4 linked regions of the Homo sapiens genome follow. The protein of the gene in region 3 purifies or fractionates together with the protein of the main gene of each other region. This does not show direct contact. Each region holds a gene or a part of one and is shown on either strand. Other genes may lie near its edges.

Evidence for each region.
Region 1: the proteins of A1BG (region 3) and KCMF1 purify together in Homo sapiens (affinity purification with mass spectrometry; 2 studies listed by BioGRID and IntAct, with this or other methods). This does not show direct contact.
Region 2: the proteins of A1BG (region 3) and WDR62 purify together in Homo sapiens (affinity purification with mass spectrometry; 2 studies listed by BioGRID and IntAct, with this or other methods). This does not show direct contact.
Region 4: the proteins of A1BG (region 3) and RNF123 purify together in Homo sapiens (affinity purification with mass spectrometry; 2 studies listed by BioGRID and IntAct, with this or other methods). This does not show direct contact.

Annotation. Positions count from the first base shown.
Region 1 is NC_000002.12:85,043,462-85,048,427, reverse strand, and holds part of KCMF1 (E3 ubiquitin-protein ligase KCMF1), read right to left. Parts: intron 4,865-4,966; coding exon 4,763-4,864; intron 2,325-4,762; coding exon 2,150-2,324; intron 1-2,149. UniProt on the Homo sapiens protein: E3 ubiquitin-protein ligase which accepts ubiquitin from an E2 ubiquitin-conjugating enzyme and then transfers it to targeted substrates, promoting their degradation by the proteasome.
Region 2 is NC_000019.10:36,060,698-36,065,663, forward strand, and holds part of WDR62 (WD repeat-containing protein 62), read left to right. Parts: intron 1-4,966. UniProt on the Homo sapiens protein: Required for cerebral cortical development. Plays a role in neuronal proliferation and migration.
Region 3 is NC_000019.10:58,344,175-58,348,545, forward strand, and holds the end of A1BG (alpha-1B-glycoprotein precursor), read right to left. Parts: intron 3,467-4,371; coding exon 3,179-3,466; intron 2,856-3,178; coding exon 2,848-2,855; 3' UTR 1,009-2,847; downstream 1-1,008.
Region 4 is NC_000003.12:49,695,358-49,700,323, reverse strand, and holds part of RNF123 (E3 ubiquitin-protein ligase RNF123), read right to left. Parts: intron 3,182-4,966; coding exon 3,102-3,181; intron 2,962-3,101; coding exon 2,867-2,961; intron 2,440-2,866; coding exon 2,385-2,439; intron 2,273-2,384; coding exon 2,187-2,272; intron 1,885-2,186; coding exon 1,798-1,884; intron 1,570-1,797; coding exon 1,502-1,569; intron 1,345-1,501; coding exon 1,219-1,344; intron 857-1,218; coding exon 742-856; intron 657-741; coding exon 552-656; intron 98-551; coding exon 1-97. UniProt on the Homo sapiens protein: Catalytic subunit of the KPC complex that acts as E3 ubiquitin-protein ligase. Promotes the ubiquitination and proteasome-mediated degradation of CDKN1B which is the cyclin-dependent kinase inhibitor at the G0-G1 transition of the cell cycle.

The DNA of each region.
Region 1 (4,966 bases), on a different chromosome or scaffold from region 3:
ATACAGTCTATCACTAAAATAAACTAATTTTCACTGACAGAAAAAAAATCAAATGAAGAAAATTTCTCAATTTTGAATTTTGCTCCCAGAAACTACTTTAATTTTTAGTGCCTGCCACCAAAATAGCAGGTAAATATTCCCTTTGGATGAAGAAATATTTTTTAAATCCCCCAAACTCAGTTTATTAGGCTTGTTTTTGTTGTTGCACACACAAATGTCCAAAGCACATTTGGAATTAAAATTTTATATGGTATATCTAACTTTTAAATAACATGATAGGTATAAAATTGTTCTTAGGTTGTTTTTCTTTTTTAAATTTTTATTTTAGGTTTGGGGGTACATGTGAAGGTCCGTTACACAGTTAAACACCTGCCACGAGGGTTTGTCATACATATTATTACATCACCCAGGACCCAATTAAGCCCAGTACCCAACAGTTATCTTTCTGCTCCTCTCTCTCTTGCTACCCTCCCCCAGTGTCTGCTGTCTCCTCCTTTGTGTTCCTAAGTTGTCATTTAGCTCTGATGTTCTCAGTTTCTATTACAGATTTACACTTATCAATGTTTCAGGTGTTCTGCAGGGTGCTCATGGCTTCCAGGTAGGTGCACACTTCACCACATGGACACATTTCAGAATTGTTGCTTTAAATGTGTGCACACTTCCCACTGTCTTACCACTTGTCTGCTTGGTGTGTCTTGCAGATTATCAGGCTACAGTGATTTCTTGTATTTTATTTTGACCCTGTGTTCTGCTACCAACTTCCTAGGTTTGTCATGTACTAGACTCAGTGACATGGCCAGGTTCAAAAACTGTGTTTTTTTTTTTTTTTTTAAGATTTTTCCCAAGCTATTAAACATGTACCTTTCAGTATGTTCTACAACAATATAGTTCTCAAATCAAGGTCAGGACATTAAGTCCTACTTTCCTTTCTTCCATGAGAAGAGCTTAATTCTTTAGTCTTTTCAATTAGCTATAGATAACAGTTCTGAAATGTGTCCATGTGGTGGAATGTGTACCTGGAAGCCATGAGGCGCCTTGCACAACATCTGAGATAGGCATAAATCTGTGACAGAATTTTACACATAACATGTTCTTAAAAATGTTAGCTATACCTTATAAAACCTTAATTTCAAATGTGCTTTGGACATTTTTTTATGTGTACTTATGGAGATTTAACCATGACATTTTGGAGGTATTCAAGTTGAAATCTTTTATGATTTCCTTGGGCTTCAATAGAGGCCACAAATACAACATAAAACCATTTCTTATCATCTTTTGTCTCTAAGAACAGTAGTCTCCCTTTACCTGCAGGAGATACGTTCCAAAACCCCCAGTGAATGGCTGAAATGGGCATTTGGATAATACAGAACCCTATACATACTATGTTTTTTCCTATACATACTTATCTGTTGTGCTAAAGTTTAATTTATAAATTAGGCACCTAATTTATAAATTAGGAACATGAGATTCCCAACAAAATAGAGTAAATCTAAAAATATACTATGAAAGTTATGTGATGTGGTCTCTCTCTAAGTATCTTATTGTCCTGTACTCACCTATTTTTTGACTGTAGTTGGTTGTGGGTAACTGAAACCCAGGAAAGCAAAACCACATGACGGGGGGACTACTGGACTTAAGCAATGCCAGAAGAGTATGAATTACTTTATGTTAAGTGTCTGCTTTTAACACATTTTACACTTTTAATGTATTTGGGAATTTTGTGAAGGAACATGGCTTATGATCAGAGAGGTGAGACTTAAGAACACAAATCTCACAAAAAGTTTTTTTTTTTTTTTTTGAGACAGGGTCTCACTCCATCACCCAGGCTGGACTGCAGTGGTGCGATCTCGGCTCCCTGGAACCTCCACCTTTCAGGCTCAAGCGATTCTCATGCCTCAGCATCCAGAGTAGCTGCGATTACAGGCACCCACCACCAAATCTGGCTAATTTTTTTATTTTTAGTAGAGATGGAGTTTTGCCATGTTGGCCAGGCTGGTCTTGAATTCCTGGCCTCAAGTGATCCACCCGCTCCAGCCTCCCAGAGTGCTGGGATTAAAGGTGTGAGCCACCGCACCTGGCATCACAAAAAGTTTTAAAAGGAGCTCCTCCTTCCCCTGCCATTTCCCTTATTAATGTGAAACTAACTTACCAGCTATAGGATCCATGGCTTCCCTATTGCTTGGAGAATATGAACTCTGAGAAGAAGAAAGTCCACCAGTAGAACTGCTAGTAAAGTGCATGTTTGATCTACGAGCACGAGGACCTCCTAATCCCCGGCCAGGGTGAAACATTCTACGTACATGTCGAACACCACTCGATTCATCATAACCCAAAAGTTAAGAAAAAAACGAAAGTATTTCACAGAAAGAAAAAAAATCACCTGAGTCCTTGCTAGACAGATGTAAAGATTTCCTGAATTGTAAGCATTTAAAAACAGCACATTTAACTTAAAGTGCAAATGTCCCAACTCTATCTATGAGGGCTATTAACCCTAAAAAGACACTCAAATGTAAGGCAACATGTGAGTGTGTGTGTGTGTATTGGGTGTGTGAGGTAAAAAAGTTTCTCTATATAGCTCATGAAATCTCAAATACCACCTATAATGAAAAAGGAACAATACTGAATGTATATTCAGCACATCAAAGGTTCCTTTTGGATTATTAGTTTTACTCTGTCTTCAAGCTTCTTTCCAATGCCGCTGCTAAGCAGAAAACAGATTTGCATTTCTTGTATAAGACACACAGATAGATTAACATGACATTTATCACGAAGAAAAATTCCCAGCAGCCTCAACCGTCTTACACAGCTGAGTGTAAGTCAAACTGAAAAAGGTCCTGAGTTGCAAATAGCTGTCAAAACTCATGAAGACAACCTTACGTTTCCACAAAGGCAAATGAGAGGTGGGGGAGGCCAGATCATATAGAAGAGATTTTTCCTTTAAAGTACCAAACAGACCAGCTTTATAATGCAGATTAATTTTTTGGCTGGCTTCTCAGTTTTTCAGCTGATGGTTCTGGAGTTATTTAAGGACCGGATGGGTAGCTCCAAGAGGCCTTCAGGTGTCACGGTACATGCCCTGTTCCATCATATTCATGAGGATGGTTTGGGTTCTAGAGAAAGTGATATGATCATATTTATATATTTGATAATTTTATATTATGATTATATATACATATATATATGTATCTTGAGACAGGGTCTCACTTTGTTGCCAGGCTGGAGTGCAGTGGTGCAATCATAGCTTACTGCAGCCTTGAGCTCATGGGCTCAAGTGATCCTCCTACCTCAGCCTCTTGAGTAGCTGGGACCACAGGTGTGTGCCACCAGCTGAGCTCATTATTTTGGTAGAGATGGGGTCTTCCTATGTTGTCCAGGTTGGTTTCAAACTTCTAGGCTCAAGTGATCCTCCCACCTTGGCCTTTCAAAGTGCTGGGAGTATAGGCATGAGCCACTGTACCCAGCTGGTGACAGTTTTAGACGAACAATTCATAACCTGAAATCAGAAGCATTGAGTCCACAAAATTAATCGCTCTGGTAGGCCAGTAATCTCAGGGAACACTGCCAGAAACTGTTGAGAGACAAGGAAGGGAATGCAGAAATAAAAGCAAGAGGCTGGGCGTGGTGGCTCACGCCTGAATCCCAGCACTTTGGGAAGCTGAGGTGGGCAGATCACCTGAGGTCAGGAGTTCGAGACCAGCCTGGCCAACATGGTGAAACCCCATCTCTACTAAAAAAATACAAAAATTGGCCAGGCGCAGTGGTTCATGCCTGTAATCCCAGCACTTTGGGAGGCTGAGGCAGGCAGTCAGGAGTTCAAGACCAGCATGGCCAAGAGACCAGCCTGGCCAATATGGTGAAACCCCATCTCTACTAAAAATACAAAAATTAGCTGGGTGTGGTGGCGGGCACCTGTAATCTTAGCTACTTGGGAGGCTGAGGCAGGAGAATTACTTGAATCCAGGAGGTGGAGGTTGCAATAAGCTGAAGATAGCACCATTGTACTCCAGCCTGGCTGACAGAGCAAGACTCCGACTTTTAAAAAAAAAAGAAAAGAAAAGAAAAGCAGGAAAGGAAATTTAAAGCTAGAGCTGACCTTATGCTATCCTACTCAGGAACTCGGCAGGAAATGGCTCTCTCTGGAGAAGGGGACCCCAAAAAGGAAAGGAACACCAAGATGCACACCTGTCCCCACCATCTCACCACACCACACCCACAACAGGGTAAGGCAGCAGAGGAACAGAGAGGGAAAGCAAATAATGCCTCTTCATATTTAACTAATTAAATTTTAATTTGGATTAACATTTTCCTCTTTTGTATGAAAACGCCATCCTGGAAGACACAATTTGGTCAAACTGCCTTAAAAAAAATCTAATTGTAATGAACTAAAGATGAAGGACAAGTCAACTTTCACTTAATGAAAATGGTTCATACAATGGTGATAGTATATAAAAAGAGAAATAAATTGCATCTCAGCACTGAGTCACTTTTAGGAAAAGTTCAAATAAGTAAAAATAATTTGGACATTACTTTTCCTCTTTTGGGGGATATGATCCTTAAAAAAAATCAAAATGACAAGCTGGATGCAGTGGCACATGTGTGCCTATAGTCCCAGCTACTCAAGAGGCTGAAGCAGGAGGATCACTTGAGCTCAGGAGTTTGAGACCAGCCAGGTCGACACAGCGAGATCTTGTCTCCAAAACAAAAAATCAAAATGACAAACATTACAAACAACTCTTTTCCTTGTCATCTCTTAAAAGGATATTAAATCTCTAGGGGCTCTGTGTTCAAGTGTAAGATGAGCTGCAAAGTCATCCGTGACATGATTAGGATCGCCTCCAGGTAACGCTGCACATATTGGACAAATCTGAAATGGAAGTAAAGAAAGCAGCTTAATAAATGAACGTCAATAAGACATCTTTCTGGACGAGTATTCTGCTGTAAGTTTTACTATTATCAAGTTTTAACC
Region 2 (4,966 bases), about 22 Mb from region 3:
TGCTTTGCTTTTCTCCACAAAATTTGCTCCCATCTCTGATATGCTGTCCAGTTTCCTCATTGATGGTATTCACTGTGGGTCTCCCTCAGTGTGAGCACTCTTGAGAGCAGGGACTTTCTCTGAGTTCATTTCTGTGTCCCTAGCACCAAAGAGCAGTATCTGGCATATTGATGGCTATTTTCTAAGAGAAAGACTTAACATGATTTGGGTTTTAGAAAGATCCCTTCAGCTATAAGTTTACTGGGGAAGGACCCGCTCCTCTGCCTTGGGGCTAACTGATCACTGCTACCCTGGGGATGTGGTCCCAATAGGGCTGTGACCTTTGGAAGGCACACCATGTCCCTCCTTGGCATAGCTCAGGCTCAGCTCCTTTGGCCCAGTTCTCCAGGTGGATGGATAAGGAGTGGGTTTTCTCCTGCCCTTATGGTCCCTAAGGTACGGTCCTTAAGCTACGGCAGGTTCTTGTTATCTGACAGAAGTGCATTCCCTCTTGAAAGTGGCTTTTTGGACCTTTTGCTCCTAACTGTGGGTTCTGTTACTGGTGATAAGGGCAGAGCTGGGTTCCATTCCTGGCTCAAGCGTCTATTCACTGTGGAATCTCAGGTGAGACACTTCTTTCAGAGCCTTGGTCTCCTCTGAAAATAAAATAGCTGCCTCCAACTGGGAGAGCATTCATAAGGCAGCAGCTACAAACCAGAGTCACACACACTTGCCCAATATAGTATGTTTTAAAGGTTGGATAAGTGGACAACATTTCAAGTTTTTTAACACAAAAATCCAAATGTCCCTTTTGTTTGGAGAAGTGAGAAATTCTCTGGCCTCTGGGGCCCAAATTCCCCTGTGGCAGTGAGGGGCTGAGCTTAGTGAAATTTGTCAGGCCCGTTGTGGCCAGTTCCTCACACCTGTGTTGCCTCCCTAATCCCTGTAGGCAGTGGAGTGGGTGGCCTGGATCTATAGTAGATGGTATGCAGGTGTCCGCCCTTGGCCACCAGTGGGTGTGCATTAGGAGGTGGTGTGGCCAGTGTGGGGATTTTCACTCCAACTGCATATCAGAATCACCTGGTCCCTGTGCCTCACCGCCCCCCCACCGCCACGCAAGAGAAAGCCAAATCAGTTGATCTGGGATGAAACTTGGGCATTGGCAATTTTGAGACTTTTTATATTGAAATAATTTCAGACTTAGAATAGTACAAAGAGCTCCTATATACCTATGTACCTTTCACATATTTCACAAATGTTAGCTTTTTTTTCTTTTTTTTTTTTGGACACAGAGTCTTGCTCTGTCACCCAGGCTGCTGGAGTGCAGTGGCACAGTCTCAGCTCACTGCAACTTCCACCTCCCGGGTTCAGGTGATTCTCATGCCTCAGCCCCCCAGGTGGCTGGGACCACAGGCATGTGCCACCATGCCCAGCTAGTTTTTTGTGTTTTAGTGGAGACGGGGTTCATCATGTTGCCCAAGGTGGTCTTGAACTCCTGAGCTTAGACAGTCTGCCTGCCTCAGCCTCCCAAAGTGCTAGGATTACAGGTGCGAGCCACTGCACTTGGCCAAATGTTAGCATTTTACCACATTTGCTTTATCATTTTTTGTCTATATACATATTAATTTGTTCTGAACTATTTGAGAATCAGTTGTAGACATGATGCCCCTATATCTCTAAATACTTCACGCCAGGCATGGTGATTCACGCCTGTAATCTCAGCACTGTGGGAGGCCTTGGAGGCAGGAAGATCATTTGAGGTCAGGAGTTTGAGACCAGCCTGGGGAACATGGCAAAACCCTGTCTCTACTAAAAATACAAAAATTAGCCAGGCCTGGTGGCAGGCGCCTGTAATCCCAGCTACTCGGGAGGCTGAGGCAGGAGAATCGCTTGAACCCGGGAGGCAGAGGTTGCAGTGAGCCAAGATCATGCCACTGCACTCCAGCCTGGGTGACAGAGCAAGAGTCCGTCTCAAAAAAAAAAAAAAAAAAAAAAAAAACTTAATCAAATAAATACTTCAGTGTGTATTTCCTACAAAAAAAAATGACAATCTTTTTAAACTGTAATACATCCAGCAAAATCAGGAAATGAAAATTGATATATCACTCTCATCCACTCCCCAGAGGGCACCATTCAGGAGTCAGCCTTTGTCCCATGAATGTCCTTTATGGCCAAAGGATTCTGTCTAGAATCACACATTGCATTGAGTTGTCCCCTCAGTCTCTTTCAGGCTGACGTGGCTCCTCTGTCTTTTCTTGACTTTCAGGATCTTGACATTTTTTTTTTTCTTTTTGAGATGGAGTCTCTGTCGTCAGGCTGGAGTGCAGTGGTGGGATCCTGGCTCACTGCAACCTGACTCCCCAGTTCAAGTGATTCTCCTGCCTCAGCCTCCCGAGTAGCTAGGATTACAGGCATATGCCACCATGTCCGGCTAATTTTTGTATTTTTAGTAGAGCTGGGGTTTCCCCATGTTGGCCAGGATGGTCTCGATCTCCTGACCTTGTGATCCGCCCGCCTTGGCCTCCCAAAGTGCTGGGATTACAGGCGTGAGCCACAGCACCTGGCCACTTTTTTTTGTTTTTTTGTTTTTTGAGACGAAGTCTCACACTGTCGCCCGGGCTGGAGTGCAGTGGGGCGATCTTGGCTCGCTGCAGCCTCCACCTCCTGGGTTCAAGCGATTCTCTGCCTCAGCCTCCTGAGTAGCTGGGACTACAGGCATGCGCCACCGTGCCTGGCTAATTTTTGTATTTTTTTTTAGTAGAGACGGGGTTTCACTATGTTGGTCAGGCTGGTCACGAACTCCTGACCTCGTGATCCACCCGCCTCGGCCTCCCAAAGTGCTGGGATTACAGGCTTGAGCCACTGCACCCGGCCAATCTTGACACTGAGGATTGTAGACGAGGTATTTTGTAGAGTGTCCCAGCATTTGGGTTTGTCCAATGCCTCCTCACGGGCAGACTCAGGTTCTGCATCTTTGGCAGGAACAGACCAGAAGGGGTGCTGTGTTCTTCCTGGTGCCTCCTCTCAGGAGGTCTCCTATGACTGGTGGTGTTCACTGGGAGCACTTGGCCAAGGTGTTGCCTGCCAGATTCCTCCACTTCAAAGCCTCTCTTTTCACCTTTGTGATTAGCAGGTATCCTGGGGACATCTTTCCTGAGACAGTGCAAATATTATCTTGTTCCTCACCAAACTTTCACTCAACTAATCTTAGGCTTTGACACTTTTCAGATGCTCCCCAGGGAAATCTAATGTACAGCCAGGACTGAGAACTACTGGCTTAGAGGTCAGGGCTCTGCCCTGTCTGGTTAGGTAACTGCAGGCAGGGGACTTCCTTGTGTTGCAGTCACCTCATCTGCCAAGTTGGTTCATGAGAGCCCTGACTCCATGAAGCATGCTTGAGGAATCAGTGCACTGATGGCCAGACAGCATTTGCCAGAGGGCCAGGCACAAGGTCAGGGCATGCGACAGGTTAGAGGTGGCTACGGGCAACAGAAACCCCTCCACAGCATGGCTTAAAACCCAAGAGCATGCTCTTCCTGCATGTCATAAGTCCAGAGGTGGGCAGCCCAGGGGCTGTGTCTCTGAACGCCACATTTTTTTTTTCTGTCTCTCTTTTTGAGACAGAGTCTCACTCTGTTGCCCAGGCTGGAGTGCAGTGGCGCGATCTTGGCTCACTGCAAGCTCCGCCTCCTGGGTTCACACCATTCTCCTGCCTCAGCCTCCCAAGTAGCTGGGACTACAGGCGCCCACCACCACGCCTGGCTAATTTTGTTTTTGTATTTTTAGTATAGACAGGGTTTCACCGTGTTAGCCAGGGTGGTCTCGATCTCCTGACCTTGTGATCTGCCCACCTCAGCCTCCCAAAGTGCTGGGATTACAGGCGTGAGCCACCGCGCCCAGCCCCACTTCTTTTTTTCTCTAGACGGAGTCTTGGTCTGTTGCCCAGGCTGGAGTGCAGCAGCACGATCTTGGCTTGCTGCAACCTCTGCCTCCCGGGTTCAAGCAATTCTCCTGCCTCAGCCTCCCGAGTAGCCGGGATTACAGGCTCCTGCCACCACACCTGGCTATTTTTTGTATTTTTAGTAGAGGTGGGGTTTTGTCGTGTTGGCCAGGCTGTTCGCGAATTCCTGACCTCAAGTGAACCACCCACCCCTCTGCCTCCCAAAGTGCTGGGATTACAGGCGTGAGGCACCGCACCCGGCCCCCATTCCTTCTCTCCTGTTCCACCCCATTTATTGTGAGGCTTCTGGTCTTGAAGTCACTTCATGGCCCAAGATGGAGTTCTGGCTGTCGTGTGCGTATTTCAGGAGGGGAACTGGTAGGAAGCAGGGCAAAGGGTTCCCTTTGACGAGTATTTCAGGAAGTCCCACACAGCATGTCAGTTTACTTCTCCTTGGCCAGACTAAGTCATGTAGCTGTACCTGCATAGTTGCAAGCATAAAACTGGGGTTATGTCAGTAAGGAAAGAGAGGCGAGTGGATATCCAGGAGGCAGCTTGCCCTGTTTGTTGCAGTAAGGAGCCACGGGAAGCCTGGGAAGCAGGTTGACTTGATGATGAATATTCCATGAAGTTGCCAAAGTCTCACTTAGCGACATTTACTTAGTTATCTACACACCAATTTACCATCTCACGTAGGGAGACAATTATTAGATTGTTAAGGAACAAAGGTAAAAATAAGATTAAAAGAGAGAAGGGAGTAGAAGGAAACCATACAATCTGGGAACAGTGAATCTTGCTGCCAGAAACCTACGAGCTAGCCTGTTCATTCAGTGCTTGTGCAGGCTAGCTAGGAGTATCAGAAACATTTTGGCTCTTTATGGATTTTCCAGAACACCTTGAGTATTTAGCAGTGGAGCACAGGCTGCAGGCTACCTTGATGTGATGCCTGCCAGGATCCTCCCATCAGCACCACCCGTTTAGTTAGGCCAGGCCTGTACCATTTCCTGCATCTCTATTTCTCAGTGTTACAGGGTGGATAGGGTCTTA
Region 3 (4,371 bases):
GAGACCATCCTGGCTAACATGTTGAAACCCCATCTCTACTAAAAATACAAAAAAATTAGCTGGGCGTGGTGGTGGGCTCCTGTAATCCCAGCTACTTGGGAGACTGAGGCAGGAGAATGGCATGAACCTGGGAGGCAGAGCTTGCAGTGAGCCGAGATCACGCCACTGCACTCCAGCCTGGGCGACAGAGCAAGACTCTGTCTCAAAAAAAAAAAAAAAAAAAGAAAAAAAATGTGGCTGGAGGCCAGGTGCAGTGTAATCCTAGCACTTTGGGAGGCTGAGGTGGACAGACCACTTGAGCTCAGGAGTTTGAGACCAACATGGCGAAATACTGTCTCTACTAAAGATACAAAAAATGACCGGGTGCGGTGGCTCACGCCAGTACTTTGGGAGGCTGAGGCGGTTGGGATCACAAGGTCAGGAGTTTGAGACCAGCCTGGACAGCATGGTGAAACCCCATCTCTACTAAAAATACAAAAAACTAGCCGGGCATGCTGGTGGGTGCCTGTAGTACCAGCTACTCCGGAGGCTGAGGCAGGAGAATTGCTTGAACCTGGCAGGCGGAGGTTGCAGTGAGCCGAGATCACACCACTGCACTCCAGCCTGGGCAACAGAGTGAGATTCGGGAAAAAAAAAAAAAAAGCAAAAGCAAACAAACAAAACTCAATAGTAAGAAAACAAACAGGCCAGGCACGGTGGCTCATGCCTGTAGTCCCAACACTTTGGAAGGCTGAGGCAGGTGGATCACTTGAGGTCAGGAGTTGAAGACCAGTGTGGCCAACATGGTGAAACCCCCTCTCCACTAAATATACAAAAATCAGCCAGTGTGGTGGCACATGCCTGTAATCCCAGCTACACAGGAGGCTGAGGGAGTTGAATCGCTTGAACCTGGGCGGCGGAAGTTGCAGTGAGCTGAAATCATGCCACTGCACCCCAGCCTGGGCAACAGAGCATGACTCTCTCAAAAAGAAAGAAAAGAGAAGAAAAAAGAAAAGAGAAGAAAAAAGAAAACAACCCAATATTTTAAAGTGTGCAAAATATATAAACAGACATTTCATCAAAGATGCTATATAGATGGCAACTAAGCACTTGGGGAAAAAATGCTTAACATCATCAGACATTAAGGAAACGCAAGGAAAACCACTATTAGATATGTCTACATACCTATTAGAATGGCTAAAATAAACTTTTTAAAAAACTAAGCTGGGGCTGGGCGTGGTGGCTCACCCCTGTAATCCCAGCACTTTGGGAGGCTGAGGCGGGTGGATCACTTGAGCTCAGGAGTTGGAGACCAGCCTGGCCACCCAACAAGGTGAAACCCCATCTCTACTAAAAACATAAAAATTAGCTGGGTGTGGTGGTGGGTGCCTGTCAGCCCAGCTACTCAGGAGGCTGAGGCACGAGAATCACTTGAACCCAGGAGGTAGAGGTTGCTGTGAGCCAAGATCACGCCATTGCACTCCAGCCTGGGCAACAAGAGCAAAATTCTGTCTCAAAAACAAATAAACAAGAAAAGGTTTTAAAAATTGATAAACCACTAGCAAGAAAGAGAGAGAGGACACATCAGGCTTGAGAGAAGTGACATCATCATAGACTGTGCAGACATTAAAAGGCATAGGCATATTAGGAACTAGATATTACTAAGGCAGTAAACCAGATCACTAGCAAATTCGTTGAAAAACACAATTCATCAACTATTGGTTGATAATACTGATACGCATCTTCTGTGTGCCAGGGCCTTGAGGCCCTGCTCCAGGCAGAAACTCGGCAGTGGTTGGGAAGGCATCAGATGTCAGATGGCACAAGAGGACTCAGAGCTGAGGGATAATGGGAAAGAACACAGAGGAATCCAGCCATTTCCACAGCGTCCAGCTCTGCTGTGGGAGGCTGGGAACAGCCCAGCACTACCACCCTGGACTGGGAGGACAAGACCACAAAATGCAGCTTCCCTGAACCTCCTCTTGGTGATGGGGTTGATGTGGTCGAGGTAGAGGTGAGTATGTCTGGAGCCTCAAGCAACTGCCCATACCTGCTGGGACCAGGCCGAGGTGCCCAGGGAGTAAGAGGCAGCATCCTGGAAGAGCACAGATGAAAGAGGCCCTGAGAAGTGTTGGTTGGCCAGGTGCTGTGGCTCACACCTGTAATCCCAACACTTTGGGAGGCTGAGGCGGGAGGATCACTTGAGCCCAAGAGTTCAAGACCAGCCTGGGCAACATAGTGAGACTCATCTCTACAAAAAATAAATAATAGAAAGAAAAATGTGAGTTGGCCAGGCATGGTGGCTCATGCCTGTAGTCCCAGCTACTCAGGAGGCTGAGGTGGGAGGATCACTTAAGGCCAGGAGTTCAAGACAAGCTTGGGCAACACAGTGAGACCCTGTCTACAAAAAATAATAATTAGCCAGACGTGGCGATGCATGCCCAGGCTCCCAGCTACTTGGGAGGCTGAGGCAGGAGGATCGCTTGAGCCTGGGAGGTCAAAACTGCAGTGAGCCGGACTGCAACACTGCACTCCAGCCTGGGTGACAGTGTGAGACCCTGTCTCAAAAAAGAAAAAAGAAAAGAAAACTGTGCTCTTAAGAGCCAGTTCTCCACTCCTCTACCTCAGGAGCCACCCCAGAACCCATCCACTTTGAGGACACGAGATCCCAGCCCACTCAGCCCTGGGAGTCCAAAGACATTTTAAACAGAGCCTCTCTTCACATTTATTAATTCCTGGGAGGAATGAGGGAGGCTTCTCCAGCCCCCCAGAGACCCCGGCCTTGTGCTGCAACAGGAGGGGAGGGAGCCAGTCCAGAATCCCCGGCACTTCTGAGGACACCAACAGCACCCTGGGCCCGCGGCTGCATCAGCTTTCTAGACAACGGGAGAAAAGAGAAATGGTGGAGGAGGGGAAATCCTATGCCCTCCTCCTCGCGGAAATCAAGGCCGACCTCCCTGACGCCCCCCCGGAAGGAAGCGCGTGGTCGGCTGCCAGCCGAGACCCCCATCTGCGCCTCCAGCTGCAGGGCCTTTGCTGGGCGGTTCCTCGCCCGCAATTCCCCCACGAGCCCTGGGGAGACCCAGCGCTAACCAGGGGTGCCCAAGGGAGGAGCCGGGAGAGGCCCTCCTGGAGGTGGGCACAGCCCAGGCAAACATCAGCAGACGGAACCAGCACCCGGGACCCAGGGAAACGTCACCTGCCACCAGGAGCTCCACAGGGTCGCTGAGCTCCGATTCGAAGGTGTGGGGCACCCAGGAGCGGTAGCGGCACCTGTAGTTGCCGGCGTGCTGGGGCCCCACGAAGATCAGCTCGAGGTTCGCCGCGGCCCCGGGGGTGCGGACCGTCTTCACGGCCTTCGTCTCGCCCTCGCGCAGCAGCTCGAAGGTGACGTCGGGGATGGGTCCCTCGCAGCGCAGGACGGCATCTCGGCCCGCCAGGACCGCCCCACTCCACGTCGCCCGGAGCTGAGGCCTGGGAGGGGGTCCTGGGCGGAGCGGGCGGGTGGTCGGGCCAGGCCACGCCCCAGGCCACGCCCCAGGCCACACCCCAGGCCACACCCCAGGCCGCGCCCGCGCCTGCGCCTCAGCCCCGGCTTCATCTTCCCTGTCTTGTTCCTGGGCGCAGAGGGCTCCTCCGGCGCCGCCGAGCTGCGCCCGCTGCCTTCACACCCCGGACATCCGCGCCACACGTGAGTGTCCCCGCACCCCTCCCCCAGGACCGTGGAAGTCCCAGATTCGGGCCTGCTCTGGGGCTTCTGGGGTCCCCAGCCTCGGTCACTCTGACGGGTGAAGGGAAGAAGAAATGATGGAGAAAACGGTGCTCCTTCATGGAGGGACCAAAAAAGGACATACAATCTATGTCAATAGATGAGGGTTTTCCCTCCATAAGTTTAACTTTAAAAGTGTATTTAAGGTGCCGGGCGCAGTGGCTCACACCTGTAATCTCAGCACTTTGAGAGGCCGAGGCAGGCGGATTGCCTGAGCTCAGGAGTTCCAGACCAGCCTGGGTAACACGGTGAAACCCCGTCTCTACTAAAATACAAAAAATTAGCCGGGCGTGGCAGCGTGCGCCTGTAATCCCAGCTACTCGGGAGGTGGAGGCAGGAAAATTGCTTGAACCTGGGAGGCAGAGGTTTCAGTGAGCCAAGATTGCGCCACTGCACTCCAGCCCGGGTGACAGAGTGACACTCCGTCTCAAAAACAAACAAACAAAACAAAACTGTAAGGAATCAAATGTTACAAAATCCTGGAAGATTTTGGTAATGCTGTTGATAATTTCAGGGAAATTAATGAAGTACATGTAAGTGCTTGATTTAAATGTGTATTTTATTCAATAGTTTGAGTATCTTGCCATGGAAGATACTAGCCCAGCCTAGCAGAAAAGTGCAAT
Region 4 (4,966 bases), on a different chromosome or scaffold from region 3:
CCTGGTGCACCACGGACTGTGCCTGTGTGGGTGTGCCCTTCTCCACGATGCCCAGCAAGAAGCTCATGAGCACAGCCTCCACCAGATACACCTTGCGCTGCACCAAGGCCAGGCACTGGTGAGGTGGTGGCCTTCCACTCTGGTCAAGGCACCCCTGCCCTGGCACATGGCCAAGGCACAAGCCTCAGGCACAGAGCCTTGAGCCACTCGAGCAACACCAAACATAGATGACCCCTTCCGGGGTCTGACTGAGGGACAAGAAGGCCATTGCCCCACGGCTCCTCTAAGGCTTGGCACACGCAGTTTCCTTGGCCTGGGATGTTATTATCCTTCAGTCTTCTTTCCAGGACATCCCCTGATGCCCTTGGTTGGCAATGTCCCTGTTTCCCTAGGGGACTGACTGAGGTCTGAGGGCCCTGGTCACATGGGGCCCTCGCCAGGTGATGCTGTGGGACCTCAGCACTGCAGCCCTCAGTGAGGGCACATCTACCACGGGCGTGTCTAGCATGGCCTGTCTCCTCCCCTCCCATGCCCCTCCCAATGCCGCTCACCAGAAGCGGTGCAAAGTGATGGAAGATGTGGGCCAGTGTGAGGAGGACGGTGGGCTGGCCCCGCAACCGCCACTTGGAGCTCTCCTTGTCCAACAGCCGCCCCTCCTGTGTGGAGGGGGAGGAGGGAGAAGTGTGAGGGGCAGGAGGCTGTGGAAGCCCCCCACCCCGCCTGGCCCAGACCCCAGCTCACCACAGGGTCCAGCTCCACACTCAGCACTGCCCGGAAGCAGCCCAGCAACCTCTGTGCCCGCACCAGGTCAGCACTCGGTGGGTCCTGCAGGGGCCGGTAGCCTGCCACTGGGTAGGTGCCAGAGTTAAGCCAGCAACGCCTTATCTGTGGCTCAGACATGCCTACTCCCTCTCCACTGCCCACCCCCCACCCCGGGGCCTGGGCTCTAGGGCAGGGCTGGTTTGCATCACAACTTGCCCACTTATTCTCCCTAGGGAGGATGCTTCACATTCCTCATCTGTTCAGTGGAGACAAGGGCACCCAACCAACCAGGCTGCTGCGAGGAAAGTTTTCTTCGACACTCTACATGGCCCCCCACTAACTCTGCAGCAGCCAGGGCCTGCCACCAGCCCATGGCACCCCTGGGGTAGGGAGCCCCTCATCCCAGCCTCCCCAAGAGCTTCTGAGCAGCCCACAGCCATCTTCACAAAATGATATCGCAGAGGACGGCTGCCAAAGTTGAAGGCCACGGACTCCTTGAAAGAGAGGCTGATGGCTGGGAAGTAGGCCATACCCAGGCCCCTGGACAGGTTCTCAAAGGCAGTGCCCAGTGATACACCGTTCCTGGGGAGAAGGGTGGGTCTGTGAGCCAGTGCTAAGCATGTGGCTGCCCACCCTCAGGCTATCAAACTCAGTCTGGCCCCTTACAGGGCCCAGGAAACTGGGGGCAGTCTGGGGAGGCCCCAGGGGCCAGGCCTGTGCATAGAGATAGGAAACTCACAGGCAGAAGGACAGAGTGCCATCATCCAGGTCAATCAGGCAGCTCACGATGTCCCCCGCTGCCCACGCCTGCCATGAGAGGAGGCCTCACCAGATGCACAGAAGCCCAGCAGCCTGCTGACTCTGAACCCCAGCTGCGTTTCCAGAACCACCCAAGGGAGACTAGCCACAAGGACAAAGGACCTGGGTCCCTGACCCTTCCCTGGTGCCCTGTAGTCCCTTATGGCTGCCCAGTGGCTCCAAATAAGCTGTAGTAACAGTCATGGGGCGGATGACCCACAGGGGCTTGGCTCTCACCTTGCCATAATTCGTTGTGGTCACATTCCACTTGCGCACGCGGTTGCCATCATAGGCATAGGAGTTGTGTGTATCTCCAACCCCCTCCTAGGGAGGAAATGCCTATGAGGTCCCTGGTGAGGCAGGCAGGGTCTGGGCCAGAGCCCACCAATCACCAGCCTTGGATGCATATGGCTCTACAGAAGGGAACAGATGATCTGAGGGAAAGAGTAAGAGGTATTCTCTGAGCTGGGGTGCCTGGGATTGGGTGGGACACGTTTCTTCTCCAGAGGGCAGTCCAGGTTAGTTAGGGTCCTAGGCAGTTCTGAGGGGATCTGGAGACCTGATGAGGCCTGTGGCAGGAGAAGCTCTCCCTGGGCCCAGGGAGGGGTCCCCTCCCCAACGTGTACCTCCTGGTTGAAGCGGCAGCTGATGGTGCACCAGCCGATCTGCATGAGCCCCTGGGAGGAGATGAGGACCTCGTAGAGCCATTTCCCTGGAAAGAGCTGAGTTAGGGCCACGAGGTGGACAAAGACTGCCTCTTGCCTCATGCCTGGGCCCTTAAACTTTCTCCTCACTACCTAGGCCACAGCAGGGTAAGGTCTCACCTTTGTACACGCATGTGGTAGAGCGGATGGTGCCAAAGTTGCTGTGTCCAATCACCTGGGTGAAGAAGAGGGGTGGTGGGCTAGCTCCCAGGCACACAGAGCATCTCCCCAAGGGAAAAAGACCCCATCCCCAACTGAGCCAGCCCTGGTGGTATTTGCCTGTGGCGGCCAACACTGCACTGTGCCTGAGGACGGTGGGAGCGGGTAGGCTTGTATCAGGAAGGATCCTGGGCCAAGGCAGGATGAGAGAGGGACTCAGGGCTGTGCTGGGAAGGGCTGGGGGCTGAGTCCACATCAAGACTGTTTCAGGGCTTTAGTGGGAGAGTTTGAGGACTGAGAACACAATGGTCTGGGGCCACGTCAGGACAAGTTTTGGCTGCAGCCCCATCAGATGAGTAGAGAGACTAGGGCCACATCAGGAGGAGCCTGGGGCTATGTCAGAAGGGGCTGGACCTGGGTCTCCACACCTCACCCTCACTCACCCCCAGCAGGTCATCATCCACCAGGAGAAGCCCCTCAAAGCCGCCTGTGTGGTCCAGGACCACAGTGGATGGGCCAAGCCGCCCTTCAACCTGTCCTGAAAAGAGGAGAGGTGGGGTCAGGCAGGGTGGAGCATTTGACAGGATGCATAGGGTGTCCTGAGCTCACCAGACGTCTCCAGGCCCGCTACGTCCCAGCTCTGCACCTCCCAACCCCACTCCAGAGGTGGCCACATACCCTGGCTTTCCTCCTCCTCATTGTCCACCTGTAGCAACTGGTCCAAATGTTCTGGCAGGTTCTGGAAGTTCAGGGGTTTCCTGGGGAGAGTGAGAGGCTGCCAGGGGTCCACAAGTCCTTGAAATCAGCCAGATGACACTAAATCCCATCCTTTCCCCTGAGCTCACAGGGGGGCTGCCTAGACTCCAGAAAAAGGGCTGTGCCTAGTCCTAGACTCTGGCATGCAGGAGGTCAGAAGGCCGAATTCTCCACTAAACTCAAAAGTATAACCAGTCCAGGCCGGGTGTGGTGGCCCATGCCTGTAATCCCAGCACTTTGGGAGGCCGAGGCGGGCAGATCACCTGAGGTCAGGAGTTCGAGACCAGCCTGGCCACATGGTGAAACCCCATCCCTACTAAAAATACAAAAATTAGCTGAGTGTGGTGGCGCATGCGTATAATCCCAGCTACTCGGGAGACAGAGGCAGGAGAATAGCTTGAACCTTGGTGGGGCAGAGGTTGTAGTAAGCCAAGATCGTGTCATTGTACTTCAGCCCGGGCAACAAGAGTAAGACTCTGTCTCAAAAAAAAAAAAAAAAAAAGTATGTGGCCAGGTGCGGTGGCTCATGCCTGTAATCCCAGCACTTTGGGAGGCTGAGGCGGGCAGATCACGAGGTCAGTAGTTCAAGACCAGCCTGGCCAACATGGTGAAATTGCGACTCTACTAAAAATGCTGGGCGCGGTGGCATGTGCCTGTAATACCAGCTACTTGGGAGGCGGAGGCAGGAGAATTGCTTGAACCTGGGAGGCGGAGGTTGCAGTGAGCCATGATCGTGCCACTGCACTCTAGTCTGGGTGACAGAGCAAGACTCTGTCTCAAAAAAAAAAAAAAAAAGTAGCCCTCTCTAAGTCTTAATTCCTTCATCTGTAAAAACAGAATAGTGACTTATGTTAGAGATGCTGTGAAGAGCCCAGGGAATAACAAGTGCTGTCTGCATAGCACATAACCTGTCCGCTCTCAAAGGTGGCTGTGCTGATGATGTCTGGAAGAAGAAGGCTGGGAGAAATGCTGGTTCCCAAAGTGGTCAGTACCAAGGCCACCTAGTCCAACCCTTGCCCCTAGGCCTGTGGTTCCTTTGGGGCAGATTCCAGTCTCGCCACCACCCAGCCAGGGGAGTCTGTGTTGAATGGGACATGTTCTGGAAGTATGAAAGGCTCAGCCCTCTGAGCTGCTGGATGGCTCTGTCCTGTACCCGCCAGTCCATAAATGGTCAGCGGAGCACATGACCCACCTACCCGAGCCAAAGGAGTTGGGAAAAATCTGTCTGGGTGGCCCCCTCATCCTCTCAACACACAGGCCTAGAGGGAAAAGGGTACTGTCTAATGCCAGTCAGTGCTGTCCTGAGCTCAGCTGCTAAGAATAGCAGGGAGTGAGGTGGTGGTAACCAGCAGGACTCAGGCAGAACAGAGGCCCATTACACACCTGGCTGCCCACAGGGTGCCACCACCTGCTCTTCCACCTTTAATGCCAGTTCTTACCCCACTCATCCACACAGACAGAAAGCTCTGGAAGGGGACAAAGGTTGGACAAGCACCCTGACAAAGTAGCCACTACCCAGGCTCAGGGATCACATATTCCCCAGTGTAAGCCACTCCCAGCCCTGAGCTGTAGGAGCAGAGATGCACAAAGGCCCCTCCCCACTGCTGCTCTGTCCCAGGCCAAGGCCAGGTGGTGGCTATGCAGTCGGGGTGCTCAGCTAGTAGCATAGAAGGCTAAAGCCAACCCCATCTCTGAATACCCCAGTGGGCCCAAGGATAAAGGAGCCTTCCTCAAAAGCAGTTACAGGCCAAGCATGGTGGCTCACACCTGTAGTCTCAGCACTTTGG